Linked DNA regions of Homo sapiens. The protein of the gene in region 1 purifies or fractionates together with the protein of each later gene. This does not show direct contact. Each region holds a gene or a part of one and is shown on either strand. Other genes may lie near its edges.

Region 1 (9,068 bases):
CTTGCTTTTGGTGTCATATCTAAGAATCCATTGCCTAACTCAAGACCAGACTTACTACTGCTTTCTTCTAACAATTTTATAGTATAATCCATTTTTAGTTAATTTTGTATGTGCTGTGAGGTGAGGGTCCCACTTCATTCTTCTGCATGTGGCTATCCTGTTATTCCAGCACACTTTGTTGAAAAAATCTATTCTTTCCCCATTAAATGGCCTTGGCAGCTTTGTTGAAAATCAATTGACCATAGACACGTGTGTTTATTTCTGGATTCTCAATTATATTTTACTGATCTACATGTTAGCCTTATGCCAGTACCACACTATTTTGGTAACTGTAGTTTTGTAGTAAGTTTTGAAATTGAAAAGGCTGAGTTCTCTTGCGGGATTGTGTTGGCTATTCTGGGTTCCTTGAGTTTCCATAAGAATATTAGGATCAGCTTGTAAATTTCTACAAAGAAGCCAGCTGGGGTTCTGACAGGAATTGCGTTGAATCTGTAGATCAATTTGAAGAGTATTTCCACCTTATAAATATTGTCTTTCAATCCACAAACATATGATATCTTTCCGTTTATTTAGATCTTTTTTAATTTCTTTCAACAAAGTTTTGTGTTTTTAAGAGTGTTACTTTTGCACTTCTTTTTTTTGCACTTCTTTTTTAAAATTTACTTCTAAATATTTCATTCTCTTTGATGTCATTGTAAATGCATTCTTTTTAACTTTCATTTTTGTATTCTTTCTTAAAATTTATTTGTTGAAGAAACCACGTTTTTTTCTGCAGTTTCTCCCCCCTCAACACACAGACACACACACACACACCTGCACTCTAAACCACACACACACACACCTGCACTCTAAACCTAAGTCTGGATGTTGTTGCTTACATCCCTACAATGTTAACATATTTTTCCTTGTATTTTTCTAAAAATTCATAGTTATATCTAGGAGCTTGATAGGGTTCAAATTGCATTTTTTGACAAAAAATACTTTCTATGTGCTGCTGTGTTTTTCCATCAAGAGGCATATGATATATGGTTAACACTCCTTTTGTAATGTTAGAAGACATTAACTATTATTACCTAGATCCACTAATTCATTAAAGGTTGTAATTTTATCATTCCTTCATAATTTATTAGCTGGGAATCTTTTTAAAACACTTTCCTCGCCAACTCCTTTGTTACACCAAGGAATAATTTGTATTTAAAAAAAGCAGGTTAAATGTTTGAGTCACTCTCTTTATTTACCAGTTTTAAAATAATGAGCTAGCTTTCTAGGTTTGGCCAAATTGAGCAATTATGTTTTTAAGTGTTTTTATGAATTTGTATATTTAAACATATTTGATATATTTCAATTCATTGTAGTTATTATCTTTACTGATGCTCAAATTGCCCCGTGTTTGACTGATGACAGCCTCTTCAAGTCCTTTTGACTCAACTCTAATAATGTTTTTAGCTTCCTTGCTATCTGGTGTGACAAGATATTTTATGTTCATCTTGGATATTTCTTGCCACATATCTGAAGTCAGCCATTTATTTAAGTAATCCTGGGTCCTTTTATTGGGAAATAGCATTTAGAACCATCCTATGGGCACTATAGGTGAATTTGGACACTGAGATTTTCATTGTTTCTAAGTATTTTTAGTGGACAGAGCTTAAAAATTTTTTTTAAATGACTAAACTGAGTTCATACTGATGCCTTCCATAATTGGATAATCTTAAGAGATCTTTCCTTCAGGCTATGAAAAATCTGGCAAAGTATTCCTATTCCATAATATTATCCCTGTGTCAAATGATTTTTTAAAAAAATATTGTATCACCAGAAACTGTGACTTGCTCTTGGACAATGATAGGTAAATAGTTCACAAATTCTTACTAATTTCCTATTTACATATCTATGACTGCCATAATTTCTGAATAAAACATTAGATGATCTCATGAGTATTGTTGTAAAAATTAGGACAATAGGACAAAGTATTTGAAATCAGGACTATCTGGAAAATATAACGTGTATAGTTGCCACATAAATATTCTAGGACAAAGATGACAAATACGTTGGCCTATGAATATGTTCAATATTAATGATTAGGACAGTAGTTGCTAAATTGGGTCCTGAGCTGTTCTAGTCCTGCTAATAGATGTTCCATAAACAAAAGAAATTCATGTTCACAAAAGTTTTGGAAATGTAAGATTGAAAAACAACACAACAGATTTCTTTACTTCAGGACTCCAAGAGACGTTAATGTTTTAATATGCAACGTGACTCTTCTGGAAGGGAAATAGTATGCAGTGTTTATACACTTATTTGAATGCTTCACGGAACCCTCTTGTACATAACAACTTGTGACTGCTGGACCAGGCTGTTCTTTTAAATTAATCACATTACAATTATGTCTTCCTGAAGCTCAGGTCAATGTATTTCAAACTGATCAGGATGAGACTTTGGGAGATCTTGTTCATTGAATGTTGAAGAGCGTATGTGTGTGTGTGTGTGTGTGTGTGTGTGTGACTCTGAAGGTAACCCTATCTCTGGTATCCAAACGCAATCTTGGTTTGGCCTTCTATCTACCGACTACACTATGATTCTATTGTGTGTGTGTGTGTGTGTGTGTAACTGTGTTATAAAAATAGAATTTTTATTGTGTGTGAAGGACACTATTTGACAGATCTCAATGATTGACCATTGGGAATAGTCCCATCTGAGAGCCACAAAACCATCCACAGCTGTTACTTTGAATCTTCGTGCTGTCCATTTTTGCTGATCCCTCACAACTAGTGTTAGTCATGTTGCTTCCATTCTAGAAAGATAATAGTAGCTGCTTTTTAAGTGGCCTCTAGAGACTCTTTTAATATAGGATTTACATGTAGGAATCTTTGGTCTAACAAAGGATTTTTCTTACCTTTAGGTGTTCCAACATTCACTAAACGTGTGGTGCTTTCAGCAGTTGTGAGATCCTGACTACAGAACGAGGTAGCTTAGAAACTAAAAGATCCTTAAAACTTGCCAGTTGGTTTGGGGGTTTCTCAGAGATTTTTAAACTGTTGGAAAATGGCATCTATGAGAAAATGAAAAAGTAGTCTAGATTGTTACACCTAAAGACGAGTTACTCTAATATGAAGGACTGTTATTTAAAGCATTTCACAAAACTATTTATTGAGGTGCAAAAAGAAAACATTGGAACATCAATATATTTATTTTTCTCATTCTTTTAAAATTTCTGTGGAGTATTTTAATGTTTACTCATTAAAATGTATGTTTAAAGTAATGTGTAATGTATACATGTACAGTAGTACATGTATATAATCTATAAATCCTTATACATATGTTGGGGCCCATGCTCAATAGTTTTTTAATAGACTAAAATGTATGCGGAAAATTTGATTTAGAGGATTGTGTGAATCTCGTCTTCATCAGAAGAGTGTTTTAGAGTGTATGTGTGGGGAACGGGGTTGGTTTAAATAGGAGCACATGAGATTCAGTTACATCAATTTATTTTATTTAAATATAACAACTATTAGTGATACAGCATTCATTCATATTCAGCAAATATTTTCTGAGCATGTCCTATGCAGCAAGCATTGCCCTAGGCTCTGTGCATACGGTGGTGAACACAAACGTTGTCCTTGACCTCATAGTCCTTCCCCACTATAGTTTAGTAGGGAAGACAGCTGTCAACCAAATAATCATACACTTAAATGTACCACCAAAAATGGGTAAGTGTTATGAAGGAAAAATACAGCAAGTTACAGGAGGCTACAAGAGTATAAACTGGGGCACCATCTCTATTCTGAGATTATCGAGAAAGGTTATCCTGAGAAGTGACATTTAAGCTGGGGCCTGCGGAGATTGATTGCACGATTGCCTTGTCAAGAGACAGAGGAAGAGTGGCCTAGATGGAAGTAGCGGGTATGTGTGAGGGCCTGGACGGGGTCATGAGATGAGTGAGGGCCTGTGCCACAAGGTCACAGGGTTTCGGGCAATGGGGAAGCTTCAGAGATGGAGCTGCCTGACAGAGAGGTGGAGTGCAGGCTAAATGACCTCAGGAGCTTTGTCCTTCTTCAATTCCAGGGGGAAAATCACAAACTAGTTGGAAGTACCAGAGGGCTACAGAAAACAACAAAAAGAGACTAGCTGGTCGGCTAGGCACAATTAAAACATCAAATTCTGCCCCAGCAGCAATTCCGGGAAATTCAAGTAATGCCCCCTGTGTGGCCCTCTAGAACTGTATCTGGTAAGAGTAAAGGGCAGTGTGTCCTCTATGCCTGCGCTACAGATGTGGACATTTTTTTTAATTGCCTGAAAATTTCATAAGCTGTAGCCAGTTAGAGGGCCTAGCAATGTGTTGTGATCATGTGTTTTCCTGAGTTATTTGAAACAAGAGGGTGTATGTACTACCCTCTTGGCAAAATTAAAGGATTTTGAGCTAGGATAAATGAGGTAGATCAGAGGATAATTGCAGGAAGTGGGGCAGTGGCTAGCCCTGCTTGAGGGCTTAGGCCCAGGCTGCAGAGGAGCTAAGTGGAAGAGCAATATTTGACGGTCTATTGCCGCTGTGCCTACTAATCGGCTAGGGGAGGAGAAGGAGGACAAGGGAGACCAGGGTTGGACGATGAGCATGAAAGAAGAGTGGGCGAGCCAGGGAGCGCTTGCCACATGGAGGGCGGGAGGCGGCTACACCGGGTCCCCACCGCCGAGAAAGGGGCACGAGGAGGCGGCGCGGGCCCCGCCCCCTCCCCTGGCGGGCGCGGGCGCGGGCTCGAGACGCTGCGCGGCGGCAGCGGCGGGCGCGAGCGGCAGCTGTCAGGCCACCGAGGTCCAAGCCGCACTTGCTGCCCCATTGAGGACGAGGAGGCAGCAGGAGCAGTGACGGTGACTCTAAGGAGCCGGATTCCCGGCACGCAGAGCTGACCTGCCTGGCACCCGCGGCCCTCTCCTGTTTCCTTCCCATTGTGTTGGGTAAGGTGCCTGTGCGTGGGCAGGAACAGGGGCTAGGGGCTGGAGGACCCGGAAGGCCGGGAGGTGGGGGGCCTGTGAGAAGAGGGAGAAAGGAAAGTCTAGTTGATCCCCAGGACCACTCGTAGCTTGAGAAAAGGGACTGAGCCGCTCCCGAGGTCGGAGTCGGGGGCAGGTGACAGTGCAGGGGGGCGTTGCTGAGTAATCCCGAGCTGCTGCCAGAGCCGAGCAGAGAGGCGCAGGGCTCCGTGGGGAGCGGGTGTGGCTCAGTGCGCATGCGCCACAGCCGACTAGCTCTAAGAGCTGGGGGTGAGGTGAGAGGACCTGGGTCGGAGGTAGTTGGGACTATGTGTGACATCTCACTTTCTAGGTCCGTAATGCTAACAGTGCCCCTGTCGTAGAGATGCCAGCATTCTTGTCTCCCAAGGAAGCTTTTTTTCCTTGTGTTCAGCTCGCTTGATGTCATCCAAACCTTATCTACCTATCTGTCCCTGGGCAGTCTACTGAGGAAGAAGTGTCCTGGGGACGATGCCAGATTGCTATCTAGTGTGCCTTTGGGCTTATAGCCCTAGAGCTGTCGTTGTGAGCAGTGAAAGGTTAGATGTGGGACTCCACATTGGACCCTTTGAGTTGCATATAGGATATAAATGTGGGCATGAATGTAGGAATAGCGTTTCAGTGGCATGACAGCTGTGGCATTTGGAGTCGGCATGGATGTAGCTGATAACTTGTTAGCTCTGCAAAATGAATCCAGTGCGTCAGAGGGTTTCCGCGCTACGAAGCACCCACCACCAGCACCAACGCCAAGTATTGGGTTGTATTGGAAACACACTCAAACATTCAATCATTTCTCATCCGTGTTGAATTTTACATAAATATAGCCGCGCCCAATTCTTCAGTGCAATATTTCCAATTATTGTGCCAGCATTCAACAGTGAGTTGAGTAGCCCTTACCAGTGTGTCGCCACAAGATGGGCTTTCCCCACAGGTCCAACCATGGCTCCTCCCCTGTACAGACTTCCAACAGTGCCACTCTCATCCAGTGCCTAGCCCTCCCCAGTTGCTCTTCCCCTATCGATCCCTGCAGTACACATCCCTTTCAAGACTTGCCTCCGAGCAATCTGCACTACTGATTTTGAGCATCATTCCACTCCATGGCAACTGAACTGATGCGAATTTGCTTTTCTGCCTCTCTTCTCTCCATCATCATACTAAAATGTACTATTTTCAAAGGTTCAACTTCTTTTTCTTCATTGTACTGCCTCCTCCCCCACCTCCACTCCCACCTCTAAGCATTCCCAACTAAATACAATAATTTGAATAAGGCTTTGTGGGTACTGCAGATTCAGAAGGTTTCAAGTGTGTTAAAGAACAAAGAGCTGGGGAGTATTGGTTATGGAAATTCCTAATTCACCTTACTCTCCAAGACTGAGACCCTGATGGGAAAAAAAAAAGTTAGTAAACTATCCTTAGAGCATGCTCATTAATGAGTTTGTGGGGGTAGGAAAGGGGAATTGCGTCTCTCGAATATTTTACTCAGTTAGAGTCAGATCTTTCTCTGAATGGGATCAAAATCAGAATAAGCGTTTTGGTCCAAATGCTCGCCCGACAGAGGACCCATAAGGGATGCATACGTCATTTGACTTTCCTATTTACGTATTTAGTGTTATCAAAGAATTCATTTGCCTGCTTAATGTTACCTTGTTTAAAGGTTTGGATTAAATCCGGCATATTCTGGGGGAGGAAAAAATGATTTCATTTGCTTTTACACTGTGCTAGTTCTTTTTAATTTAAGTATGTACTAAAGGACATGACATTCATTTTCAAACAATGATAAATGATTGTGGAGAGGCCAGCACCCACCGACAACATCAACTGGATATCATTATTCTGCTCTTGTTTTGGGTAGGAATGGGGAAATGTATATACTTATTTTTAAAATGTGAGAGTAGGGGGAGGAAAACTGGAGCATTTCCCTTGACTTTCAACAGGTGGAATTCCCATTACTCCCCATCCAGAAAATGATCGAGTCAAGTTCATAACTTCTGCTCTTTAGTTACCTTATAAATAATAGTATTTTGGCATCTTACAGAACTATGGATCTATTGTACCTTGGCATCAATTCAGAGGCATTAATTCTGGGCACCTACCTAATCATTTAATTGGTAAACAAATATTTATTATCTCCATGGAGGATCCTGGTGCTGCACACTGAAGGGGCTTCAAAGATGTATACAGTGAGCTTACTATCTAGGAATTTAAAATTGATCATGTAAGAAAGACAGGAAAAGTTTGTTAACAAAATAAGTCAGTATAATGACATTATTTCAACTGTAAACAATGAGATCCTGAGCTTGCATGTTAATTTGTAAACTCCCTGAGGGCAAGACCTTGCCTTAAACATTTATTAATTCCCAACAGTATCTACATCCAATGGATGTTTGAGTGATGAAGCTTTGCAAAGTAGATTGAGTGGGGAGACACCAGAAGCAGGGAGAGAAGAACTTTCACAATAGATTAGATGTGAGAAATTGTGGGCCAAAATGAGGATGGTAGCACAGGACTAGAAAATGATACTTCAAGGGAAAATCAGCAGGATTGAATGAAGGCAAGGAGACAAATCTAAACTGTATTCATTTTTACTTCTAGAAAATAAATGGGAGTTGGAGACAGCAGAGGAGAGTGGAGGGTTTCCTTAGTAAGGACACAACACACAATAGGCACTGTAGTGTTTTCTCAAATATCAGTAGCAAGATTGGACCAGAAGACCCTGAAGGTCCCTTCAATGCTGAGATTCTGTGCCATATGCAGATGTTCAAGCTTGTTGAGGAACAAGGCATTCTCAAATATGGAAGAAAGAGAAAAGGAAGAATTCTTATACTTTCACTAGCAGGCCCTTTCTGAGAAGGGTTAATACTGAGCCACAAGGCCCCCACCAGTGCATGAAAGGAGGTGGAGGAGCCAGAGGAATAAAAATCTCAAACCAAATTTTTCAAAAAATGCTTACAAATCTTTGCAAACTTCATAAGCTTTTCATTCTCCCCCAAAATCCTGTTAAGTAGGGCAGGTATTATCTGCTCTATTTTTATGTAAGAAGATACTGAAACAGAAAGATTAAATGACCTGCCCAAGTTCATAAAATAAATGAATGGTGTAACAGTGATGAAGACCCTGGTGTCCTGATTACTGCCAGCTAGCTCAGTGCTCTTGACACTGAACCACATTGCTTTTCCTCTTTTTCCCTTGGCATAGAGCCTATAGGCCCAGAAGTTATGTGTGCACATAACCAAATAGGGAATGCACAAGCAACTGCAGCATTATCTCAGACAGTTATTAATACATCATCATTATTCCTGGAGCTGAGCATTTGGTTTCCATATTCACTCAGTCCTTGACCTGTCTATTGAGTTTATCTGCAACTGGGAGAATAGGGTCAGTGAGTCTTTTAATGATGTGAACGCCTGTTTGCTAGGAACTCAAGGAAGCTTGTGTGGCCTGGACGCTTAATACTAGCCATCAGAATCATGCCCAAGTTTGTACTTCTGTTGCTTTTCAAAATGAGAGTTCAAGAGTTTTGCTCTGTAAAATTATCCTACAGACCAGTATAAAAAAATAAAAAAGTGTGCTAACACTTGTTTCATCTCCATTTAAAGAAATGTTTGTTACTTGAGCTAATTCCAAAGACAGCAATTTGGGAGCAGGAAAAAGAGGACAAAAATTAGGAATTGTAGGAAACTTGAGAATTCTGTAGAGTGTATATAAACCAAGAAGGAGGATAAAGCCTATCCATTTAGGAGATATTATTTAAATTCATAATTACTGATTTAGATATCTAATGAATCCTTATTATAAGTTTTATCTATATTTAGAAAATAACATGTGATTATTAAGCAGCAGATTTTTTTTTAAAGCTTCGTTCTTCCTCAGTAAGAAATAACACTACACAGATCTAGGCACTGTTTTTCTTCTTAAACCAGTACTCTTGATGCTGCTTAAATAAGATTCTTGCCATAATTAATTATAATATTAGATGAATGTATATTTAAATTTAATAACACCAGCTAAATATTAAAACTGGTGTTTAAGACAGATGAACTGCCAGGTACAGCGGCTCACGCCTGTGA
Region 2 (5,438 bases), on another chromosome or scaffold:
CGACCTTCTGGTCCCAAGCTTAGGCTGCCTACCTCTGCTCTCACAGGCTCCTGCTGCCGAGTTCTGTGCAGCCCAAGCCAGGCTCAGCCCTATGAAATTGGCCCAGGGGCCTGGTCCTGGAACTCATCCTGCCCAGGGAGGTCCTGGGATCCCAGGTTGCAGACTGGTGACATCAGCAGCCAGGCCCTCAGACTGGCTCCACCAGCTAACCCCTGACCTGCTGGCTCTACCAGATATTCTGACTCCCTCCACCCCCAAGTCTGTCCCTTCTTTCTCAGCTGCTCTACAGCCCCAGGCATGAGTGAGCTGCCCTCAAGTTTGGGATTAGGGAGATCAGAGTAGGAGCAATCTCATTTCACGTCCCCCACCCCCGCTGTAGCCTCGGGGGTTAGGGGATGTTTAGGCCTTTCCACTCAGGCTTGGGTGGGAACTGAGTCCCCCTTCCAGGGGTACAGAGTACCTTTCTCTCACTGAGAGGAGTCTCTGCTCAGTTGGACTAGAGGATTCCCTTTTCTCCAACCTGGAATTCTTCCTGGGAATCCAGACCAACCGGCTCAGGCACCTGTGCTGTGTGCATCCTTACTCCACCCCGTCACTGGGGAAACACTGAGGATGGCACCAAGGCGATCCCAAGGTAGAGAGGAGGAGGCTAGGCATCTTCAGGGAGGCTCTCCTTGGGTCTTGTCCTCAGGCCCGTCAGCCAGGGCCTTCTTCCTTCTTTCCTTCCTTCCCACTAGTGTCCCAGCTCTGCCCATGGGCCGCCTAGCAGAAGACAGTAAAAACAGGCCGACAAGAAGACACAAGGAAACAGAATCCAGGAGGGGCTGTTTGGTGATGCATCAGGCAGGGAGGTGCCGTGGGGAGTGGGGACAGAGAGGCCCCAGGAACTGGCAGGGAGCCCTCCACACCCACACTGCCTTTTCTTGTCCAGCTCCAAGCACCAGAACCTGCCCGGGGGTGGGGGCAGGTGCCCCACCTCCAACACCCTCAGTAGACACACCAGTGGATATAAACTTCCAGGCAGGTCAGCCAGAGGGCTTTGTGCAGGGGCTGCGGATTTGTGCATCACTGCAGATACGGGAAGGGGCAGGGCCCTGGCTGTCCGGACGTGTGTGAGCACATGTGGGCCCAGGCAGATCCCAGAGAACCAGTAGGATGCCTTTGTCACACTCTCTCCCTAGCTTTAATCAATCTTTCTCTCCCCACCCAGCCAGGTTTGAGTCAGTGCCCTAACCCCTGAGCCAGTCCCCTCCCCCCACCACCACTCAGGACTCTCTAGGTCAGGACAAGGTGTGTACATGGTATGTGTGGGGGGACACCATGGGAGCAGACACTCAGCTCAGGACCTCAAGGAGCTGAGGCCAGGCCGCTGCCCAACCATTCCTTAGCAATACAGAAGCAAGAACATGAGTCTAGAATCCTAGACCAAGGGTAGAGACAACTTTGGTTTCAGTGCTGAAGCGCTCCGGCCAAGAACCTTGGGCAAGTCTCAACAGCAGTTTCCTCATCAGTACACTGGGCCTAAAAATCTCATCCCTGAGACTCTGTGAGGATCAAATGGTATCAAGTATTCTCAAAGGTACTTCAACCGTAGAATGCTACTCATGGGGACCGATAGTGTTGTTCAGGCAGGACGGAGCAAGGACACCCTGGCCCATTCCTGGGAACGTGGAGCCCTTGAGCCTCCCCAGCTATGGTGAATGGGGGCCAGGGCAGGGGGAACATGTGGAAGGTGCAGGGGTCATGGGAAAAAATTGTATGATGCTTCCAGCTGGAGAAACTCACAGCTGCTCTGTAGCTTACCAGAGCCAGAACCTGAGCCCAAGCCCTATTCCTGCTTGGAATCTAGACCCAGTCCCAGCCCCCACCCCAAACCAGAAGGTAAACAAAAGCTCAGCCTTCACCCTGAATTCTGCCCCAAACACTGAAGCCTTGGCTCTCTCTGAGAGGAAACAATAGGATGGCGCAGAAAGAAGGAGCTGGCAACACCCCATGTCTCTTCCCTTTCTTTTCAAAAAATAAAAGTGATGAAGGTGGTGGTGTAGTGATAGCAGCGACAACAGCTTGGTAGCCTGAGAGGGCCTCTCCATTCTTTATTCAGTCCCAATAAGTTAAAGGGCAAGGGTAGGGGGCAGGGCCTCTTAGGTGAGGACGCTGCTAACTGAAGGCAGCAGTTCAGCCAGTTGCTCCAAGATGCCCACCGCTTGGCACAGCGGGTTACCCTGCAGGTTGAGGAGGACCAGCCTGGGGCAGGAGGCAAGAGGCTGGAGCACTGCAGGCTGCTGGAGGCCTTGTTCAGGAGAGTCAAGGAAAGCTTGGCAGGTTCCTCCCAATTTATTTGCTCCTGTGTACCCTCAAGAGCTGGGGACTGCTGCCTGGAAGTCTGTTTGATGGGCATCTCATATGCTCCCTGGAGGGAGTCAGGCTCTAGGCAGGGACTGCAAATGCCTACCCACAGGGTCAGCCAGGAAAGAATGAGCCGCAACACCCCACGCAAGCTGGTGTAGTATCAGGGGAGTGGTGCAGGGTATGATAAGGTGGAAATCTAGCCTGGTCCAAAGAGACATTTACTATTCAGCAATGACCAAGGGCTGCTGAGTGAAAATACCAGTGTAAGGTTGCTCTAACTTCCAATTTTTAAGAGAGGAATTAGAACTCTAGATGTTTTTTAAAGTATGAAAGTTCCTGATTTTCAAAAAACTACATAGACCTGAAGAACAGCTGCGGGCTGCCCATTTGTGAACTCTGACTTGAGGAAGTCCACTCCGCACAACTCCACCAGTGCAGGTCAGTGATAGCCCGACAGCCCCAGGCTCTCCCCCTTCAACTCACACTACAGAGCCCCCTCTCTCCTGCCCTGCAAGAGGGTGGCACATACCCTGCCTGCTGTCTGTCCCTTCCCAGGGTGGCACCTCACTTTACCCACTGTCTGAAAGGCACCCAGAAGGAAGGATACGGTTGTTGCACAGTAGCAGCTCCTGCAGCCGGGGTAGGTTGGTGACGCCGTCCAGGGACTCTATGGCATTATCACTGGCCTGCAGCACCTGGGGGCAGGGAGGGCAGGGAGGCAGGACAGGCGCTGTCAGCCAGGGATGGTTCAGCAACTGAGGAGCTCAGGGTGACGGGTCCACAGAGCACAGAGGGGCTCACAGGGTCAGGCTGCGTGATGGAGGTGGAAGGCACGCAGTTACCTGTTCGGGGTGGAGGGTCCTGCACATCTCCTTGTAGGATGGGCAGACTTCTGAGGGAGAGGAAGAGGAAAAGAACCACCCGTGACAGGGACGGAGACATGGGTACTTTACCTCAAGGCAGCGCAGGGCAGCCAGTGCAGGTGGCAGGGTTCGGAGGCGATTGTGTGACAAGTCAAGATGGGTGACCAAGAGCAGCTGTTCCAGATGGCAGAGCACTGTCAGATCCTGGGGGGTGAAGGGAGGAAGGAGGTGATGGGCTTCCCAGGAGACCTGGGAGAGGGTCCTCGGCCAGCATTTATTAGGCACATGCCCTCTGTGCCCCACAGGCCCTTGGGGACCCCAGCCAAGAAGAGGATGGGAGCATGTGGGAAGCTGACCTTACAGCCCACAGCAGTACATGACGTGGGACAGACAGTGCTGCGAGTGGGGTAACCAGTGGGGTGGGTGAGGAGGAGGAGGCCTGGAGTTCGGAGGTACAGGGGCCAGTGGAGGGTGCTGGGTAAACAAAGACTGGTCCCCCATGGGGACTGGTCCTGATGAGGCAGAGATGAGTTTGGCAGGAATGGAGGTGGGCTGTGGTGATGTGATAAAACTAATGTGTTGGGAAGGACTAGGAAAGTGGAGCCTGGACAACTTCTCAGGAATCTCTGGAAAGTATTTGGCCTTCAGGTATTGGAGGTTGCTCCAGGGTGAGATGTGCTGGAATGTGTGGGAGGAGTGGGCTAGCGGTCACTCTGAAGGAAGATGAAGCTGTGACCAGCCTGGGGAAGAAACAGCACAAGGAGGTCCTGGTGACTCGGGATTTGAAAGTGAGTGGCAAGAAGAAGAATGGGCTGAGTGACAGAAAGGCCTGGAAGAGGAGCAAGCTGGGAGGCAGGGATGAACTCTATCTTGATTGGAAGTCCACAAAGGCACCTGAGACTGGGGGCAAAGTCAGGGACGTGGGGAGGCCAGCGGGATGAGGGCCAGGGGAAGGCATGCATGGCAGCCCATACCTTGTGAGCCAGGTGCAGCACACGCACCTCGGCATACTCCATCTTGAGCACGCTATTCTCCAGCAAGAACTTGCTGCGCAGGTCATCCAGATACGTTGCCCGCATGGGGTCCACGGCCTGGAGTGGATGAGGTGGGCAGGGTATGCATGTCAGCTGCCTGCCTCCTGCCTGCTGGGCCTCCCCCTGGTCTGTTCTGCAGACAGAACTTGCCTTGAGGGTCTGGAAGTACTGCAGGGTCTCCTTCTCATACAGCAGGGGGTCCAGTGCCCGCATCAGCAGGATGATGGTAAGCAGGCACCCTGAGGAGAGGGCAGGGAAAAGGAGGGTTTCTCTTGGAACCTCCTCTGCTCCCATCCTCCTGAGGCCTTCCTGCTGTCCTCTCAGGGCCACACTGGAAAGGGGTTTCCTCAGCGGGCTCTGGGAGCAGACTCTCACGGAATGGGGCCTCACATTTATTCTCAGGCTCCAGCTCCTGCAGCTCCTTACAGGATTCCAGCTCAGACTGCAGCACTGTGGACTTCTCCACTGACAGCTCACACCTGAGGGTGGGCAGGGTGGGGAGGAGTTGAGGCCCACAGCCCTGAAGCACTGGTCAACATTCCCAGTATCTAGACTGAAACAGCTCCTTGAGGCCCCAGCCTCCTGCCCTGGCTGCCTGATGCCCAGAGTCCAGAGCCCCTCTCCTTGTTTTGTGCTTCCCTATCACCACCTGAATAGCTGCTCGTCTGTCGTGGAGTCCCGGCACCAGCCCTCCTGGCGGCCTGGGGAAAGAGTAGGTGGTTGGAGGGTGCACCCTTGAGAGGAAAAGAGTGATGGGGGCTGCTGCAAGGGGTGGAGGCTGCAGGTTCCATCACCTTTTAAAAGCACGCATTCTTTCTGGACATCGCCTGCTGTCCAAATGACGCGAAATGTATGTTGGGGCAACTGGTCGTTGAGGGAGGCAGCAGGCAGGTCACAGAGCTGGGAGTACTGGGTCAAGGAAATGCCCCAGCCTAACCACTTTTTTGACTGTCCCACCCAGCCCTGCCCCAGACCCCAACTTCTGCCCCACCAATCCTGGGATACCCAGACATGGCTGGGCCGGTTCCTGCCATCTGGGGTCCTCCACTCCACAATCAGGGGAGAATCATCAACCATGAGCAGCAAGATCTCCATCCTGGAGCCCACCTGGCACAAAGGACAAAGACTTCAGCCCCATCAGCACCAGGCCCACAGTCCCACAGTGCTCTTGACAAAAGCTGCAGGACTCACT
Region 3 (8,900 bases), about 18 Mb from region 1:
TTTCTATGTGTGTGCTTGAATATGTATAGGCAATTTTAATTAACTGGAAGATCGTTTGATAAAATATTGGGAAACTTTGCAATCAGGCCACTGAATATTCAGTTTAATTATGTTGGTATGCACTTCTATTTGCTTCTAATGCCAAGGATCCATTGGTAAAATGAATGCCCATTTTGTGGTCTGTTATGCAGAAAATGTTTAATCCAGTGTTTGATTTACTCTGTTAAATCTTCCTTATTGAATGTGTTTATTCATCCATGCAAAATTGGGTATGCTGCTTTCTGTTACTATGACATTACAATTAAACAGCTAAAAGAAGAATAGCAAGACTTTCTATAAAGGTTGATGAAATTCCCACAAAATTATTCAGCCTCTTTGTTTTGTTTCGTTTTGTTTTGTTTTGCAGGGACTATGAAAAATGTAAATGTGTTCTGAATATTTCTGTATTGAAGAAGCTGACAAATACAATAGTTAGTACAAATAATCATTTTGTTACTAAAACTAACACTTAAAAAATATTTCTAATATATGGAAATAATTGCTGTCATGACATTGATTATCTTTTAAAGATGGAATTGAACATGAACTCAAAGACCTCAATTTTATAAACAAAAATGGTATGATAGAATAGTATTTATACACATTTGAAATGGAAAACTTTAAGTTAACTTCATCTGGATATATTGTGAAACTCCTCAAGGGGGTTGTATACTCACAACAGCACTAGTTCATGTAATTTGAGGATATTCTCCAGTAGACTGGACTTTCTTTACTTTTAGCTCTGTTTTATTGTCCAGAGTATTGGTACTGGTAAATTTTTACCACCACTACAACTACAGGCTTGGAGACACATTTTTTAATTCAAAATTAGCTTTAATACTAGTTCTGAATTGAAAAAAATTCTTTATAAGTCTGGAACTTATAATAAGATGTAATAATCTACTTCCTGAATTATTATTGCTTATTTTTCATAGTGTTAAGAGATACACATTCATACAAACACAACTATTTTCTAAGAATCTCTTTTCAATTGAAATGTCTGAAATGAGACAAAGAATTCAGAAACTGGATGTCAAGGATGCTCAGTAAGCATCCTTGAAATTCAATCCAAGGAAGCCAGAAAAACGATCCAAGACTTGACAGATGAAGCAGTCATATTAATAAATAACCAAACTGAACTTCTGAAATTGGAAAATTCACTATAGGAATTTCAAAATACAGTTGAATGCCTTAACAACAGACTAGACAAAGCAGAGGAAAGAATTTTGGTGCTTGAAGACTGGTTATTCTAATCAACCTACACAGACAAAGAAAAAGAAAAAGGAGTTTCAAAAAATGAATGAAGCCTCGGAGAGATATGGGATTATGTAAAATGATCAAACCTACAACTCATTGGCATTCCTGAGAGAAAAGAAGTGACAGTAAGCAAGTTGAAAAACATATTTCAGGATATAATACATGAAAAATTCCCCAACCTTGCAAGAGAGGTCGACATGCAAATTCAAGAAATTCAGAGAATCTCTGAGACATATTATGCAAGATGACTATCTCCAATGTACATAGTCTTTGGCCCAGTGGGGTGGCTCACGCCTGTAATCCCAGCACTTTGGGAGGTCAAGGCGGGCGGATCACGAGGTCAGGAGATGGAGACCATCTTGGCTAACATGGTGAAACCCCGTCTCTACTAAAAATACAAAAAATTAGCCGTGTGTGGTGGCGGGCGCCTGTAGTCCCCGCAACTCGGGAGGCTGAGGCAGGAGAATGGCGTGAACCCGGGAGGCGGAGCTTGCAGTGAGCGGAGATGGCGCCACTGCACTCCAGCCTGGGCGACAGAGAGAGACTCCGTCTCAAAAAAAAAAAAAAAAAAAAAAAAAGATGTCCTTAGAATAACAGAATAGATGCAATTCAGCTGTTTTGCTTTACGCTTTTTTTACTGCAATTATTAACTCCTATATTCATCTTTACTTTGCATAAAGTCTACAAAAATACATTTGAAATAAAAGGTATTTGGAGCATTTTCTCCATGCACAAGATTGAAATTTTCCTAATGTAGTAATCTTTTCCATGCCCAGAAAAGGGCATGAATAAGTCCCATAATAACTTTAGAGAAAGAACAGCAAAATATAAGTTGGTAATATTATCCTTCTGAGGATTGTGCTTTCTATCCTTAGGGGAAAAAAAGAAGGTTTCAAACTAAGGGCAGCACAGATTGGAAAATCTATGCTACAGAGTAATTACTTGTTTATTTTGTTTTACCCTACTAAATGTAAACTTCATGAAGACAGGGGTTGTTGTCTGTTTTGTTCATTGCTCTAATCTCAGCATCCAAAATAGTGTCTTGCACATAGTAGGTGCTGAATGAATATTTGAGGAATAAACAAATTAATGAATTGCATCTTCATGGTGTGATTGTCAGAAAATTTCTGAATCCCTAGAAGGTCAGTGATACTCATATTGAAAAGTATATGTATGTAGTTTATATATCTCGTATACATGAACAAATGTATATAAATATATATCCAAAGTATGGTAGAAATACTTTTATTTATCAGGTTTTTAACCATCCATCTGTGGCTTCTCATTATTAGAGAAGATTTTGGAAAGTTTTCTGTGTTTACTCTGAGAAATCCATTTGTTTCCATTTTCTACTGTCTTATCAAGAGTCTCACAAATAATATCTGTTTCACTTCTGATAATACTAAAAACTTGCTTTACATACCAAGGCAAATGACAAAGTGGTTTACTGAACAGTACATTATACTTCTCAGGGGAATCTGTTTTACAGAAAATACTAATCAAAGACCATATCTTAAGAGAGTTGTGTAATACAACTGGATGATCTATAAAAGAAAGTAATGAAACATGTACAATGTTGCTAATGATTATGGTAAAATGCAAGAGAAATGCAGTAAAAAGCGTATCAAAATACATTTTAAAGCATTTTCATGTAAATATTTACAATTAATGGACACTGAACATCTTCTAAATATAAGACACATGATAGTGGTGGGCAGATATAAAGGCAAAGATGGTAAGCACTATGAGGACAGGGACTCGTCTCATCCATCTATTAGGGGAGTCAAAATCAAGTTTGGTTTAGCAAACATTTATTAAATTCCTACTATGCACCGGGCTTAGGTTAGGTGCAGGAGTGAAAAAGATAAATGAGACTTGGTGTCTGTCATGCTGTACAGGGGTTTATAATTATGGTATTGCATGTCTGGGTGTGTATTTTTGTGTGGATATATGGGGATATGTGTACTCTATAGGAATCGTCATAAATGCAGTATGGCGGGTTAAGACAAAGTCTAGCACCATGTAGGGAAACAGCCCACACACGGAGACGAAAGGAGGAGGAGGTGGAAGCCCAGCGACATCCTGGGAATAACTGTTAGCTAGAGAATGGGAAGATCATTCCATGCTGAAAGAACAGCATGAGCGTGGTCAGAGACTGGAAAGAAAACAATGTCTGGGGAACCACAAGCATCTTAGCGGATAGGTGGTGTCAGGGAAGGCCCACTACTGCACATTATCTTTGATTTATTTTGAAACTCTTGTAAAATAACTACACAAGAAATTTCTGTCGTCAAAAAAGTATCCTCCTTCATTCCCAGCATCCTTCCCCTTTTGCTTTGGTGTTGTCAGACAGCGGAGTATTAAATAATCGGGGGCAGGGTGGGGGGCGGTTGGAGGGAAGCGGTGGGAGGCGACAGACCTTGAAGATACTTATGAGAGCTATGTTAGCTGTTAGACATAGACGACCTAAAGCCCCTCATCAGATACAATCACTTTAATATAAAGACCATTTTACCTTAATTATTTCTACGGTAGCTTATGGAAACTAATAGATTGGAAACTAAATGTAAACTAAGGAGAATCTTACATGAACTTATCTAGTTGGTGCGGAAAATCGAATTCAGACTCAACAGACGCTTATCCAGCGCAACCATGCTTTCATATATTTTTTCCCTCCTGTAAAGCAAGGCTAATTTATTGCCCGAGTGGCTGTCTGGACTAACTGGAACAAATACGGACGCGGTGGGAGTTCCATTCTGGCGAAACTAGGGTGAGAGGTTTTTTGTGGGTTTTCATCGAGGAGACATGGAAACGAAAAAGATATGGAATATATTCTGAAAGTATTGGTGTGAAAAACCATGCCTCGAGGGCCAACACGAAAGTACAGAAACGATGGCGGGAAACAGTTTTTTAGGCTGGAATGAAAGTCTCCTTTGTTCACAGAGCAAACCGCCTTCAATTTCACTCCGCTCTCCGTGTCTCCTAACAATTTTGCTTCAGTATTGTCAAGGGGTATCCAAGTCTCCCACATTCATCCTAGCTAACGGAATAAAAATCTACATTTCTTTCCTACTTCAACCCTCCAGGCTAAATGAGCTACAGCATTCAGCCTGGAAAATGAGTCGAGCTTTTAACTTACGTGTAAACATTTTAAATATAATACTGTAGTCGCCTGCCTGGACCTTCCACCCAAGAACTACAACACCCAGAATGCACTGTTTTCTTTTCCGCCTTCCACGGAGGGAATGCCTAACTTGATCTCATTTCCACAAGTAATAGTCACATGACACGTTTCCCGTCAAGATGGCGGATACTCTCCCTTCGGAGTTTGATGTGATCGTAATAGGGACGGGTATGTGTAGCCTGGTGCTTCCTGGACAAAGTTTAGGAAGACTGTCTTGTTTCTGTTTTTTCTGTCAGTGGCGAGTTTTGGGACAAACATCGTGGGTCGAGAGTGGGAGGGAGAACTGAAAGGAAGTGAGGTAGTCCGGAGTCAGCGCGGGAGTTGGCAGTTACAGGGAGGGGCTGGGACCCGCAGTGCTTATCGCCATTTGAGTAGGGGTTGATCTGGTCGATGCTGATTGCTGAGGTTGGTTGCTGCGGTGATTCCTGTTAATTTCCTTAGAGGGAAGTGGATGTGCAGTGTCATGAAATGGAGGGTCGGGATTTTATCAACGGAGACGACTTTGGCAAGACATTATGATTCCTTCCTTATTGATTTCAAGGTGATATTCCCCATCATTTTGTCTCGCCATTTCATAGGACTTTTTCATAGATTTGTATGATCTTAGCATACATCGCAGCTCAGACACAGCTTAATCCTCAGTTTTACAAGAAAGATGCTCAATTATTGCCCATGTGCGTATGAATTTACTAGGGAAAGTAAACGGATTCTATTTTGTTGAGAAACCTAGGGAATTTTATTTTGTTGAGGTAGCCATTATTCCTGCTTTATGGTGCTTAAAGCATCTTGCTTTCTACCATCAATAACTAAATGTGCTGAGAATAAGGTCCTGAGTTCCAGTTCAGGTGTGTGACCTTATCTAACTCTTGTTTTCCCGTCGTTTGTTCTTCATGTTTTGGGTGGAACCAGAAACTCCTCTGCAGTTTCTAGTTGACATATTCAGTGTACAACACGTAGCAGAACACATATGGCAGCAATTTCAATTTTTTTTAATAGTGTAAGGGATGATCATTTTAGATGGAATGAAATAGGTTGTTTGATGGGGTTTTTTACTGTTTGTAGAATGTGGTAGGCCAGAGAAGCTCTGGTGGATGGGACCCTGTCCATTGTGTTAATGAATTCAGTTCGTTGTCTTCTCATACAGCCATGATTAGGAGCAGCCATGTTTTCAGGTTGGGAGTAAAAATAATAGCTACCTGTTTTCGAATGCTTAAAATTTCCTAATCACTGTGCTAAGCACTTTACAAGCCGAACATAATCCTCACAACCTTGTTAGAGTAGTAGGTACTCTCTGCATTTTGTAGAAGAGGAAAAGGGGACTTGGAAAAGTTGTAATTTGCTCAGGATCACACAGCTGGTAAATTTCCAAAGGCCCATTCCATCCCAGGAAAACAGTCAGTGGTTCTGATCCTCAGAGTTGACCCATATTCGTAGAAACAATTGAGAAAACTTGGTTTTAGGTCTTGCTTAGTGCTAGTATGAATTGCTTGAATTGGGAGGGCCAGGCACTAAATCTCTCTGAGCCTCAGTTTCCTTGTTTTTGAATATAAGGAAGGTAAAATAGATGGTCTTTATGTTGTCTAACAAAAAATGCCTGGGTAACAGTTCTCAGAACAGCATGGACAGGTTTATTCTTAGCCTGAAAATAACTGCATGGCTGCAAATAACCTGGTTGTAGCTGCTATGAACAGATGTTGGATGAGAGCTGGAAAGAGCCAATGGACTATTCATTTTTTCTTTTAAGTCTATACTAAAACTGAGAACAGCATCCATTTTGGAATAGTTGTTATACCATACTTGAGTTTTATAATCTTGCTTTTTTTGTGTAGGAACTTGAGGTGTTTTTAACAATTTTTTTAATCAACAATTTTTTTTTTCAGGTCTGGGTTCAAATTTTAATTGATGAATGTTAATTCTTATGAATGATGCTAATGTTTTTCATAAATATTTTGCCTTCTGTACAGTTCAGAATTGGAAGACATCCATCCTGATGGAGTCTGTTATGGTAGAGGTAGGAAGTTACAGTGAGTGAGCCAGAGAATTGCATCAGGTGACATCGCTTATATTTGGAAAAATACTCATTTTATACTTATCCCAGTGAGTGCAATGTTATTTTTCAGTGTTTGGGAAGAACTTATTTGAAGTTAATCTTAAAACTTAAATTTTTCATATTGTTTATTGGTGACACATTCTAGGTTTTATCAAGCACATTGCTTAAATTTATGATATGTAATTTTGCTTTTAGGTACATCAAAAGTGTAAAAATTGAATAAAAGAGTCATTCCCCAAATAAATGATTCCAACAATTCCAATCATGATTTAATTTGATTTATTTTTTAGTGTGCTTGGGATATTTCTCTTGTGAAATAGTTTGCTGAAAGTAGCCTTTAAAATGTTTGCTTTATTAAATGTATTACATTGAGCAAATCATAGAAAAAGCAGTGTTTCATAGATTCAGTTGTATTAATAAAAGTAGAAGCAATAATGCATGCATCAGAAACATGAAGAAATAGGCTATTAGATATACTTTTTAGCAGATTTAGTCCTAGTTAAAATGTCATAAAGGAACAATTGCTTCATCAAGTATAATCATGGAAGATAATATTTTATAATCCCTTTCACCTTGATTAACTTGCATTATCATTTTCTGTAATGCAAGATGGAAATTGTTCCTTAAGATCATATTTTCGAGAGATTATGGAAAAAAATAAACTTTGTATTTTCTTAGTTAAGCCCATTTCCTTCTGATTAGAAAATACAGTAAATATCTCTTGAACATCCAAAGACAGAAGAGTAAGCTAAAGTGGAATTGCGGAAAAAATAGAAGAAAATGGAATAAAGAAGGAGGGCCAACTGGAGTCTCAAGGGAGAGGATAAAAATAGATATATGTGGTAAGGGTCTAGAAGGTGCTCTTCAGCTTGGGTACAGAATTGTCATTTTCAGGGTATTTTGCCATTTAAAAAGTCATTTAAATGACAGTTTTGTGGATTATAGACAAGTACCATTGGTTGAACGTTAAAAGTCGTCCCAGTAACATTACATCTCACTGGAGGTGACTTATCTGGAAGCCTGTGTAATCTGCAGCACAGCAGAGCCAAGAACTCAACAGAAGAGCAGTCAAGATGGAAGTTATAAGATCTATATGATAATATTGACATGCTTCATACATAGGGGAATCCCTGAGATCATCACTTAGAACATATTCATCCTCATTTTAAAAATAATTCTAGCAAGCTCAGCATATTAGAACCACCCCCTTAGAAGATACAAGGAATGTTATCAACTTCTGCAAAGACTATGTTTGGTGGGGTTGCTATTAGACATACAAATGACAGTTTGTATAGGAAAGGGAAGAGAAAAACACCTAAAATGCAAACTTACATCAAACATCACAAAGGCCTGATAACATTTAGTGTAGTGACAAATACTCATTTTTCAGGTCATTCAACCCACATTTACTGAGAACCTAGTCCCTTCCCTTGTGAAGTTTACTGTATTGCCTATTCTCAGGAACGTTCTGGCCTTCCTAACAGTCATATCCCCAAAGCTGTTCTTAAGACAATGTAGGCTTTTCATTGCATCCTTCTTTCTTTTTGAAGACCATGTAGACATTCAGCCTGCATTTTTTCTTTTTAAAAGCACACTGCTCACATCTTTTGGAGTTCTTCCCCTAAGATGGGCTGCAGAGTAGGTTAGCTTAATTTTTCTACTGCATAGGATAAACACATATATTCTTTTGATTTAAGAGTTTTATTGTTAGCCAAGCATGGTGGCACGGGCCTGTAATCCCCATTACTCTATAGGCTAAGGCACAGGCATCCCTTGATCCTGGAAGGCGGAGGTTGCAGTGAGCTTAGATGGCACCACTGCACTCTAGTCAGAGAAACAGAGTGAGACTGTCTCAAAAAAAAAAAAAAGTTTCATTGGCCAGGTGCAGTGGCTCAGGCCTGTAATCCCAGCACTTGGGGAAGCCGAGGCAGGTGGATTGCTTGAGCTCAGGAGTTTGAAACCTCAGCCTCCCAAGTAGCTGAAATGGGTGACACAGCAAAACTGTATTTCTACAAAAAAAATACAAAAATTAATTGGGTATGGTGACACGTGCCTGTAGTCCCAGCTACTTGGAAGGCTGAGGTGGGAGGATTGCCTGAAACTGGGAGTTTGAGGCTGCAGTGAGCTATAGTTGTGTCACTGCACTTCAGCCTGGGCAACAGAGCAAGACCCTATCTCAAAAAAAAAAAAAAGTTTTATTGCTAAAGATTATGGGGAAAGAGAAGGGATAGCAAAGATAAACATGGAAATTATAAGGAGTACTGCCCCTAAATCCTGATTATCTTGCTAGATAGTGTTTAGCACCATACAGTAGTAGATGTGGCAGCATGGTGTATGATAATCACATGACCATCCTATTGTGTGATTTTG
Region 4 (8,878 bases), on another chromosome or scaffold:
GCCAGGCATGGTGGCTCATGCCTGTAATCCCAGCACTTCGGGAGGCCGAGGTGGGCAGATCGCTTGAGGCCCAGAGTTTGAGACCAGCCTGGGCAACATGGTGAAACCCCATCTCTACTAAAAATACAAAAAATGATCTGGGTATGATGGTGCATGCCTATAATCCCAGCTACTCAGGAGGCTGAGGCAGGAGAGAATCACTTGAACCCGGGAAGTGGCGGTTGCAGTGAGCCAAAATTGCACCACTGTACTCCAACCTAGGCAACAGAGCGAGACTCTGTCTCAAAAAAAAAAAAATTATTTATGATGAGAGACATTAAAACATTACAAAATTAGGCCAGGCACAGTGGCTCAATGCCTATAATCCCAGCATTTGGGGAGGCCGAGGTGGGAAGATCACTTGAGGCCAGGAGTTCAAGACCAGCCTGAGCAACGTAGCAAGACCCCATCTCTATAAAATATTTAAAAATTAGCTGGGCATGGTGACATGTGCCTGTAATTCTAGCTACTTGGGAGATTGAGGTAAGAGGATTGGGTAAGCACAGGAGTTCAAGGCTGCAGTGAGTTATGATTGCACCACTGCACTCTAGCCTGGGTAACAGAGCAACATCCTGTCTCTAAAAAAAAAGAAAAGGCTAGGTACAGTGGCTCACACCTGTAGTACCAACACTTTGGGAGGCTGAGGCAGGTAGATTACCTGAGCCCAGGAGTTTGAGACCAGCCTAGGCAACATGGAGAAACCCATCTCTACAAAAAATACCCCCCCCAAAAATTAGCCGGGCATGGTGGCACATGCCTATGGTCCCAGCTACTTGGGAGGCTGAGGTGGGAGGATCACCTGAGCCCAGGGAGGTCAAAATTGCAGTGAGCCGTGACTGCGCCACTGCACTCCAGTGACACAGTGTGAGACCCTGTCTAAAATAAATTAATTTAATTTAAAAATAAAAATAAATTTAAAAAGAAAAGAGGCTGGGTGTGGTGGCTCACATCCATAATCCCAGCACTTTGGGAGGCTGAGATAGGTGTATCACTGGAGCCCAGGACCTCAAGACCAGCCTGGGCAGCATAGTGAGACCTTGTCTCTACTAAAAATTAAAAAAATTAGTCAGGCATGGGGGCATGGGCCTGTAGTCCTAGCTACTTGGGAGGCTGTAGCAAGAGGATCACTTGAACCCAGGAGATCGAGGCTGCAGTGAGCTATTGTTCATGCCACTGCACTCCAGTCTGGGCAACAGAGGGAGACCTTGTCTCAAAAGAAAAAAAAAAAAAGAATTATAAAATTAGCTAGCCTTGGCCGGGCAAAGCGGACATGCCTGTAATCCCAGCACTTTGGGAGGCCGAGGCGGGTGGATCACCTGAGGTCGGGAGTTCAAGACCAGCCTGACCAACATGGAGAAACCCCATCTCTACTAAAAATACAAAAAATTAGCCGGGCGTGGTGGCACATGCCTGTAATCCCAGCTACTCAGGAGGCTGAGGTAGGAGAATCACTTGAACCCAGGAGGTGGAGGTTGCAGTTAGCCGAGATGGCGCCATTGCACTCCAGCCTGGGCAACGAGTGAAACTCCATCTCAAAAAAGAAAAAAATAATTAGCTAGCCTTTTACTTTGAACATCTCCAATTTTGGAGATTTAGGACAAATACAGTTTTATTTAAGGGAAGTTTTTGAGAGTGTTTGAGAATACTGAGTGGGATGAAACTAAAGGGTTTGAGTAGAAGGTTAGAGGTTGGTGATCAAAAGAACTACTTTTTTTTTTTTTTTCCTGTCAGCAGGGAAAAAATAACTACCCTTTAATTACTTTACCAGTTTTACTCCTGTGTGATCTGATGATCCACTTCTTACAGGTCATCTGGAGCCCTCCAAAGGGACTTTGCTGAAACAACACCAACACCTTTGCTGAGTCATTGTGGGCTTTGGTGAAACTATAGGAATATATACTGTCATGATACAGGGTGAAGGCTTCTCATCTAATAAACATATATTGAGGGTCCACTAGATGCCAGGTACTGTGCACAGCCCTGTGGATGATATGTTGATGGAGACAAGGTTGCCCTGCCATCAAGGAGCCCATGATATAGTGGAGAGTGAACATGGGAAGCTGAGGTGCAAAGGGAACATAAGAGGTGTGCATACCAATAAAAATTAGAGACAGTAGGCCGGGCGCGGTGGCTCACGACTGTAATCCCAGCACTTTGGGAGGCCGAGGCGGGCGGATCACGAGGTCAGGAGATTGAGACCATCCTGGCTAACATGATGAAACCCCGTCTTTACTAAAAATACACAAAAAATTAGCCGGGAGTGGTGGTGGGCGCCTGTAGTCCCAGCTACTTGGGAGGCTGAGGCAGGCGAATGGTGTGAACCCGGGAGGCAGAGCTTGCAGTGAGCCGAGATGGCACCACTGCACTCCAGCCTGGGCGACAAGACTCCGTCTCAAAAAAAAAAAAAAATTAGAGACAGTAGGATGCAGTCAAATAGTCAGAGACTTGGATACCAGCTGAGTCCATGCCAGTTTGTAGTATGATCTTGGGCAAAGTCACCTAGCTTCTGTGGCCTTGCCTTTTCCTTCTGAAAAATGGTAAAGATGCTATATTTTTTCCCCTGTCACCTCAGGTGGTATAAGGAGAATATGACTTCAAGGACAAAAAACACTTTGATTTCTTCAAAGGACTTTGCAATTGCTATAAAAATTCAAGATGTCAGTATTGACAGTTTTATAACACAGAGCTAAGATATCTAGATACCATTATCAGGATATGGTAACAATACCCACTAATACTTATTTTATGCTATCTGAATGTTTAAATTTTTTAATGGAGTACTGTTATACAAAATAACTTTTTTTTTTTTGAGTCAGAGTCTTGTGCTGTCCAGCCTGGAGTGCAGTGGCATGACCTTGACTCACTGCAGCCTCCGCCTCCCAGGTTCAAGAGATTCTCGTGCCTCAGCCTCTCCTGAGTAGCTGGGATTATAGGTGCCCACCACCACACCTAGCTAATTTTTGTAATTTTTTTTTTTTTTTTTTAGTAGAGACGGGGTTTCACCATGTTGGCCAGGCTGGTCTCGAACTCCTGACCTAAGTAATCTGCCCACCTCGGCCTCCCAAAGTATTGGGATTACAGGTGTGAGCCACCGTGCCAGCCACAAGATAACTTTTTATCAGATTTTTTTTGTCTCTATTCATATTAACTACACCAAGATCAAGTTACAAAAAGTTGTCAGCCGGGTGCCATGGCTCACGCCTGTAATCCCAACACTTTGAGAGGCCAAGGCAGGTGGATCATTTGAGGTCAGGAGTTCGAGACCAGCCTGGCCAACATGGTGAAAGCCCGCCTCTACTAAAAATACAAAAATTAGCCGGGCCGTAGTGGCGTGCGCCTGTAATCTCAGCTACTTGGTAGACTGAGGCAGGAGTATCGCTTGAGCCCGGGAGGCAGAGGTTGCGGTAAGCCAAGATCGCGCCACTGCACTCCAGTCTGGGCGAGAGAGTGAGACCCTGTCTCAAAAAAAAAAAAAAAAAAAAAATTGTCATATCTGTTGCCATAGCAATGAAGTAAGCTACTCATCAGTCTTCCTACACCTCTGTACATTTATTAAGCCTTCTATTTGAATAAATATAAACTTCATTTCAGGATAAAATATATAGGGAATGGCAAAACTATGAAATTATTTAACTTGCTTAAAAGATTAAAACTGAACTCAACTTTAATTCTAGGCCCTGGGCCGGCCCTTCAAAGCATTGGAAAGTCGTGAAATTGATGTGTTGCTCTCTCTTTTCCAGCTGAACTGTCCCAAGCAATAAACAGTGGTACATTGTTATCAAAACCGTCCCCACCCTTACCACCTAAGAGAGGCATTCCATCAACCTCAGTACCCACCTTGGAGTCTGCTGCTGCCATCACCACAAAAACACCAAGTGATGAAAGAGAGAAGAGCACGTGTTCTATGGGCTCGGAACTACTACCAATGATCTCACCTCGCTCTCCGTCCCCCCCACTGCCTACTCATATACCTCCAGAGCCTCCACGCACCCCTCCATTCCCTGCTAAGACTTTTCAAGTTGTGCCAGAAATTGAGTTTCCACCATCCTTAGATCTACACCAGGAGATTCCCCAGCAGGAAGATCAGAAAAAGGAAGTCCCCAAGAGGATACTGGACCAGAACTTTGGGGAGCCCCATATACCCTCTAGGCTGCCTCCACTCCCACTGCATATTCGAATCCAGCAGGCCCTCACCAGCCCACTTCCCATGACTCCTATTCTGGAGGGTTCTCACAGAGCTCATTCGTTGCTTTTTGAAAACAGTGACAGCTTTTCTGAGGACAGCAGTACGCTGGGTCGGACCAGGTCTCTTCCCATCACTATTGAAATGCTAAAAGTGTAAGTGCCTTTAAAGCTTGCCTCTTATTTCTCCTTTACTCTAGATAGCCCTGCTTGGAAAAAATTACTTATAAAAAGAAAATGTGGGCCGGGCCTAGTGGCCCACACCTGTAAGCCCAGCACTTTGGGAAGCTGAGGCAAATGGACCGATCACCTGAGGTCAGGAGTTCAAGACCAGCCTGGCCAATACAGTAAAACCCTGTCTCGATGAAAATAACAAAAATTGGCCAGGCGTGGTGGCACATACCTGTAATCCCAGCTACTCGGGAGGCTGAGGCAGGAGAATCGCTTTAACAGGGAGGTGGAGGTTGCAGTGAGCCAAGACTGTGCCACTGTACTCCAGCCTGGGCGACAAAGCGAGTCTCTGTCTCACAGAAAAAAAGAAAATGTGAATAATTTTTTTTTTTCCGAGATGGAGTCCTGCTCTGTCACCCGGGCTGGAGTGCAGTGGCACGATCTCCGCTCACTGTAACCTCTGCCGCCCAGGTTCAAGCGATTCTCCTGCCTCAGCCTCCCGAGTAGCTGAGACTACAGGCATGTGCCACCACATTCGGCTGATTTTTGTATTTTTAGTGGAGATGGGGTTTCAACATGTTGGCCAGGCTGGTCTCGAACTCCTGACCTCAGGTGATCCACCTGCATCGGTCTCACAAAGTGCTGGGATTGCAAGTGTGAGCCACCGCGCCCAGCATTGTGAATAAATTTAAAGTACAAAGAATACTCTGCCAAAAGAATAAGTTATAGAATTTGGACTCTTTCTTTTTTTAATCTTACCTTAAAACTTTATTTTTATTTATTTATTTATTTATTTATGTTTGAGACAGGTTCTCACTCTCTCACTCAAGCTGGAGTCAGTGGTGCAGTCTTGGCTCACTGCAACCTCCATCTCCTGGGCTCAAGCAATTCTCCCTCCTCAGCCTCCCGAGTAACTGTGACTACAGGCGCATGCCATCACACCCAGCTAATTTTTATATTTTTTGTTAGAGATGGGATTTTGCCATGTTGCCCAGGCTCACCCTGAACTCCTGGGCTCAAGCAGTCTGCCTGCCTCAACCTCCCAGAATGCTGGGATCATGGGTGTGAGCCACTGCGCCTGGCCAAATTTTGATTTTTTACTCTTGTGATTTTTTTTTTTTCATGGAGATTTTTGTGATGACACAAAATTTACAAAATTATGTACATGAAAAATTACAACCGCTAGTTTTATATACTACAGGGAAGGCATTGTATAATGTTGTGCTTAAGAGCATTCACCTTGGAGTGAGATAGCCCTGGGTTCAAATTGCAGCACTACCACTCTTAGCTTATAGTAGTGTTAAGTTACTGAAGCCTTCTGCTCTTTAGTTATATCATCTCTAAATGGGAATAATATTTACTCTGTAGGCTTGTGAGAATGACATTAGACAAATTCTGGAAAGCACCAGTGCCTAATAAGTGGTAAAGCTGGGATCTGAACCCTTAGATTAATACCTGCTAAAAAGTTTCTTAGTAAGATTGTTAAAGTTAAGGGAGAGAATTAATTATAAGTTACTTCATCCATAGATTTTTTTGTATTTATGGTTATTTCAGTCCTTTGTCTTTTTTTTTTTTTTGAGATAGAATCTCACTCTTGTCACCCAGGCTGGAATGTAGTGGCACAATCTCGGTTCACTTCAACCTCTGCCTCCTGGGTTCAAGAGATTCTCCTGCCTCAGCCTCTCAAGTAGCTGGGATTACAGGCACCTGCCACCATGCCAGGCTAATTTTTGTATTTTTAGTAGACACAGGGTTTCACCATGTTGGCCAGGCTGGTCTCAAACTCCTGACCTCAGGTGAATTTGCCCACCTCCATCTCCCAAAGTGCTGGGATTACAGCCATGAGCCACCACGCCCAGTCTTTATTTCAGTCCTTTGTCTTAAAAGTCAGTTATCCTCTTCATTTCTAAAAGGAAAATATAATTATGTTAATTTGTTAGTCCAGACGATGAAGAAGAAGAGGAGCAAACCTGTCCATCCACATTCAGTGAAGAAATGACACCTACCTCAGTCATTCCTAAATTACCACAGTGTCTACGGGAGGAAGAAGAGAAGGAGAGCGACTCTGATTCAGAAGGTCCCATTCAGTACCGAGATGAAGAAGATGAAGATGAAAGCTATCAGAGTAAGAAAGGGAGGGAAAAGCAAAACAGAGAATTCTTTTCCAGATAAAACTATTTGCTGATCTTAGCAAGTGTCAAAAGAGATATGGAAACAGGTACCTTCTCCCATTAAGTCATCTGGCTAACTGATGTTGGAAGCCACTGTGAAGGACTCCTTGTCCCTATTATCACCCCTCTGTTAAAACAAGCCAAGACAGGGATCCAAGTAGATTGAGTCACTCAGGTTTTAGGTTTTTTGTTTTTTTTTGTTTTAATTTTTTTTTTTTTTTTTGGACAAGGTTTTGATCTGTCACCCAGCTGGAGTACAGTGGTGCAATCGTCGCTCACTGTAGCCTCCAACTCCTGGACTTAAGTGATCCTTACGCCTCAACCTCCCAAATAGCTAGGACAGATGTGTGCCACAACTGGTTAGGTTTCTTTGATTTTTTGTTTTGTTTTTTGTTTTTGTAGAGACAGGGTCTCGTTAGGTTGCCTAGCCTGTTCTTTTTTTTTTTTTTTGAGACGGAGTTTTGCTCTTGTTGCCCAGGCTGGAGTGCAATGGTGCGATCTCGGCTCAGTTTAACCTCCACCTCCCAGGTTCAAGCAATTCTCCTGTCTCAGCCTCCCAAGTAGCTGGGATTACAGGCATGTGCCACCACACCTGGCTAATTTTGTATTTTTAGTAGAGATGGGGCTTCACCATGTTGGTCAGACTGGTCTCAAACTCCCGACCTCAGGTGATCTGCCTGCCTCGGCCTCCCAAAGTGCTGGGATTATAGGTGTCAGCCACCGTGCCTGGCCATAAAAGATATATATATAATTTTTTTTTTTTTTTTAGACAGAGTCTTGCTCTGTCATCCAGACTGGAGTGCAGGGGCACGATCTCAACTCACTGCAACCTCCACCTCCCGGGTTCAAGCAATTCTCCTGCCTCAGCCTCCCAAGTAGCTGGGATTACAGGCGTCTGCCACTAGGCCCAGCTAATTTTTTTTTATTTTTAGTAGAGGCGGCGCTTCACTGTGTTGGCCAGGCTGGTCTCGAACTCGACCTCGTGATCCGCCCACCTCCCACAGTGCTGAGATTATAGGTGTGAGCCACTGTGCCCAGCTGCCCAGGCTGTTATTGAACTCCTGACCTCATGTGATCCCCCTGCCTTGACCTCCCAAAGCTCTAGGATTACAGGCATGAGCCACCGTGCCTAGCCTATTTTTAATTTTTATAGATATATAATAGTAATATATATTTATGGGGTACATGAGATATTTTGATATAAGCATGTGTGTATGGGTAATTAGGCTATCCATCTCAAGCACTTATCATTTGTTTGTATTGGGATTATTCCAAATCTACCTTTCTGGTTATCTTGAAATATACAATGAATTATTGTTAACTATAGTCACCCTATTGTGCCACCGAACACTAGATCTTATTCCTTTTTTTTTGAGACAGTGTCTCACTCTGCAGGCTAGAGTGCAGTGGCACAATCTCAGCTCAATGGAACCTCCACTTCCTGGCTCAAGCAATGCTCCAACCTCAGCCTCCCAAGTAGCTGAGAACACAGGTGTGAGCCACCACGCCCAGCTCATTTTTGTATTTTTTTATAGAGACAGCGTTTCACCATGTTGCCCAGGCTGGTCTCGAACTTGTGAGCTCAAAGTGATCTGCCCACCTCAGCTCCCAAAGTGCTGCGATTACAGGCATGAGCCACCACGCCCGGCCTAGATCTTATTTCTTCTATCTAATTCTGTTTTTATACCCATTAACCAGTCTCTCTCTCCCCCATCCCCTCTACCCTTCCCTGCCTCTGGTAACCACCATTTTATTTATTACCTCCATGAGATCAACTTTTTTAGCTCCCACGTAAGAGTGAGAACATACAACATTTATCTTTCTGTGCCTGGCTTATTTCACTTAACGTAATTGTCCTCCAGTTCCATCCATTTTGTTGCACATAACAGGATTTCTTTCTTTTTCATGGCAGAATAATCTTCAATTGTGTATATACACCACGTTTTCTTTATCCCTTCATTTATTGATGGACATTTAGTCTGATTCCATATCTTGGGGATTATAAATAGTACTGCAATAAGCATGACTGATTGATTTGCTGATTTCCTTTCTTTTGGATATGTACCCAACAGTGGGATTGCTGGATCGTATGGTAGTTCTATTTTTTTTTTAATAGACGGAGGCTCACTCTGTCACCAGGCAGGAGTGCAGAGGCACGATCTCAGCTCACTGTAACCTCCGCCTCCCAGGTTCAAGCGATTCTCCTGCCTCAGCCTCCCAAGTAGCTGGGATTACAGGTGTGTATCACCATGCCCAGCTCATTTTAGTTTTTGTTTTTGTTTTTGTTTTTGTTTTTTTAGTGGAGACAGGGTTTC

The links.
Region 2: the proteins of RAB9B (region 1) and RABGGTA purify together in Homo sapiens (affinity purification with mass spectrometry; 3 studies listed by BioGRID and IntAct, with this or other methods). This does not show direct contact.
Region 3: the proteins of RAB9B (region 1) and CHM purify together in Homo sapiens (affinity purification with mass spectrometry; 3 studies listed by BioGRID and IntAct, with this or other methods). This does not show direct contact.
Region 4: the proteins of RAB9B (region 1) and PHACTR4 purify together in Homo sapiens (affinity purification with mass spectrometry; 3 studies listed by BioGRID and IntAct, with this or other methods). This does not show direct contact.

The regions. Positions count from the first base shown.
Region 1 is NC_000023.11:103,827,939-103,837,006, reverse strand, and holds the start of RAB9B (ras-related protein Rab-9B), read left to right. Parts: upstream 1-4,749; 5' UTR 4,750-4,947; intron 4,948-9,068. UniProt on the Homo sapiens protein: The small GTPases Rab are key regulators of intracellular membrane trafficking, from the formation of transport vesicles to their fusion with membranes.
Region 2 is NC_000014.9:24,263,474-24,268,911, forward strand, and holds the end of RABGGTA (geranylgeranyl transferase type-2 subunit alpha), read right to left. Parts: coding exon 5,438-5,438; intron 5,354-5,437; coding exon 5,252-5,353; intron 5,147-5,251; coding exon 5,041-5,146; intron 4,948-5,040; coding exon 4,896-4,947; intron 4,726-4,895; coding exon 4,637-4,725; intron 4,486-4,636; coding exon 4,397-4,485; intron 4,304-4,396; coding exon 4,187-4,303; intron 3,417-4,186; coding exon 3,303-3,416; intron 3,045-3,302; coding exon 2,957-3,044; intron 2,291-2,956; coding exon 2,142-2,290; 3' UTR 2,065-2,141; downstream 1-2,064. UniProt on the Homo sapiens protein: Catalyzes the transfer of a geranylgeranyl moiety from geranylgeranyl diphosphate to both cysteines of Rab proteins with the C-terminal sequence -XXCC, -XCXC and -CCXX, such as RAB1A, RAB3A, RAB5A and RAB7A.
Region 3 is NC_000023.11:86,043,232-86,052,131, reverse strand, and holds the start of CHM (rab proteins geranylgeranyltransferase component A 1), read left to right. Parts: upstream 1-4,573; 5' UTR 4,574-4,599; coding exon 4,600-4,648; intron 4,649-4,803; exon of another isoform or gene 4,804-5,021; intron 5,022-8,900. UniProt on the Homo sapiens protein: Substrate-binding subunit of the Rab geranylgeranyltransferase (GGTase) complex.
Region 4 is NC_000001.11:28,469,775-28,478,652, forward strand, and holds part of PHACTR4 (phosphatase and actin regulator 4), read left to right. Parts: intron 1-3,779; coding exon 3,780-4,377; intron 4,378-6,332; coding exon 6,333-6,517; intron 6,518-8,878. UniProt on the Homo sapiens protein: Regulator of protein phosphatase 1 (PP1) required for neural tube and optic fissure closure, and enteric neural crest cell (ENCCs) migration during development.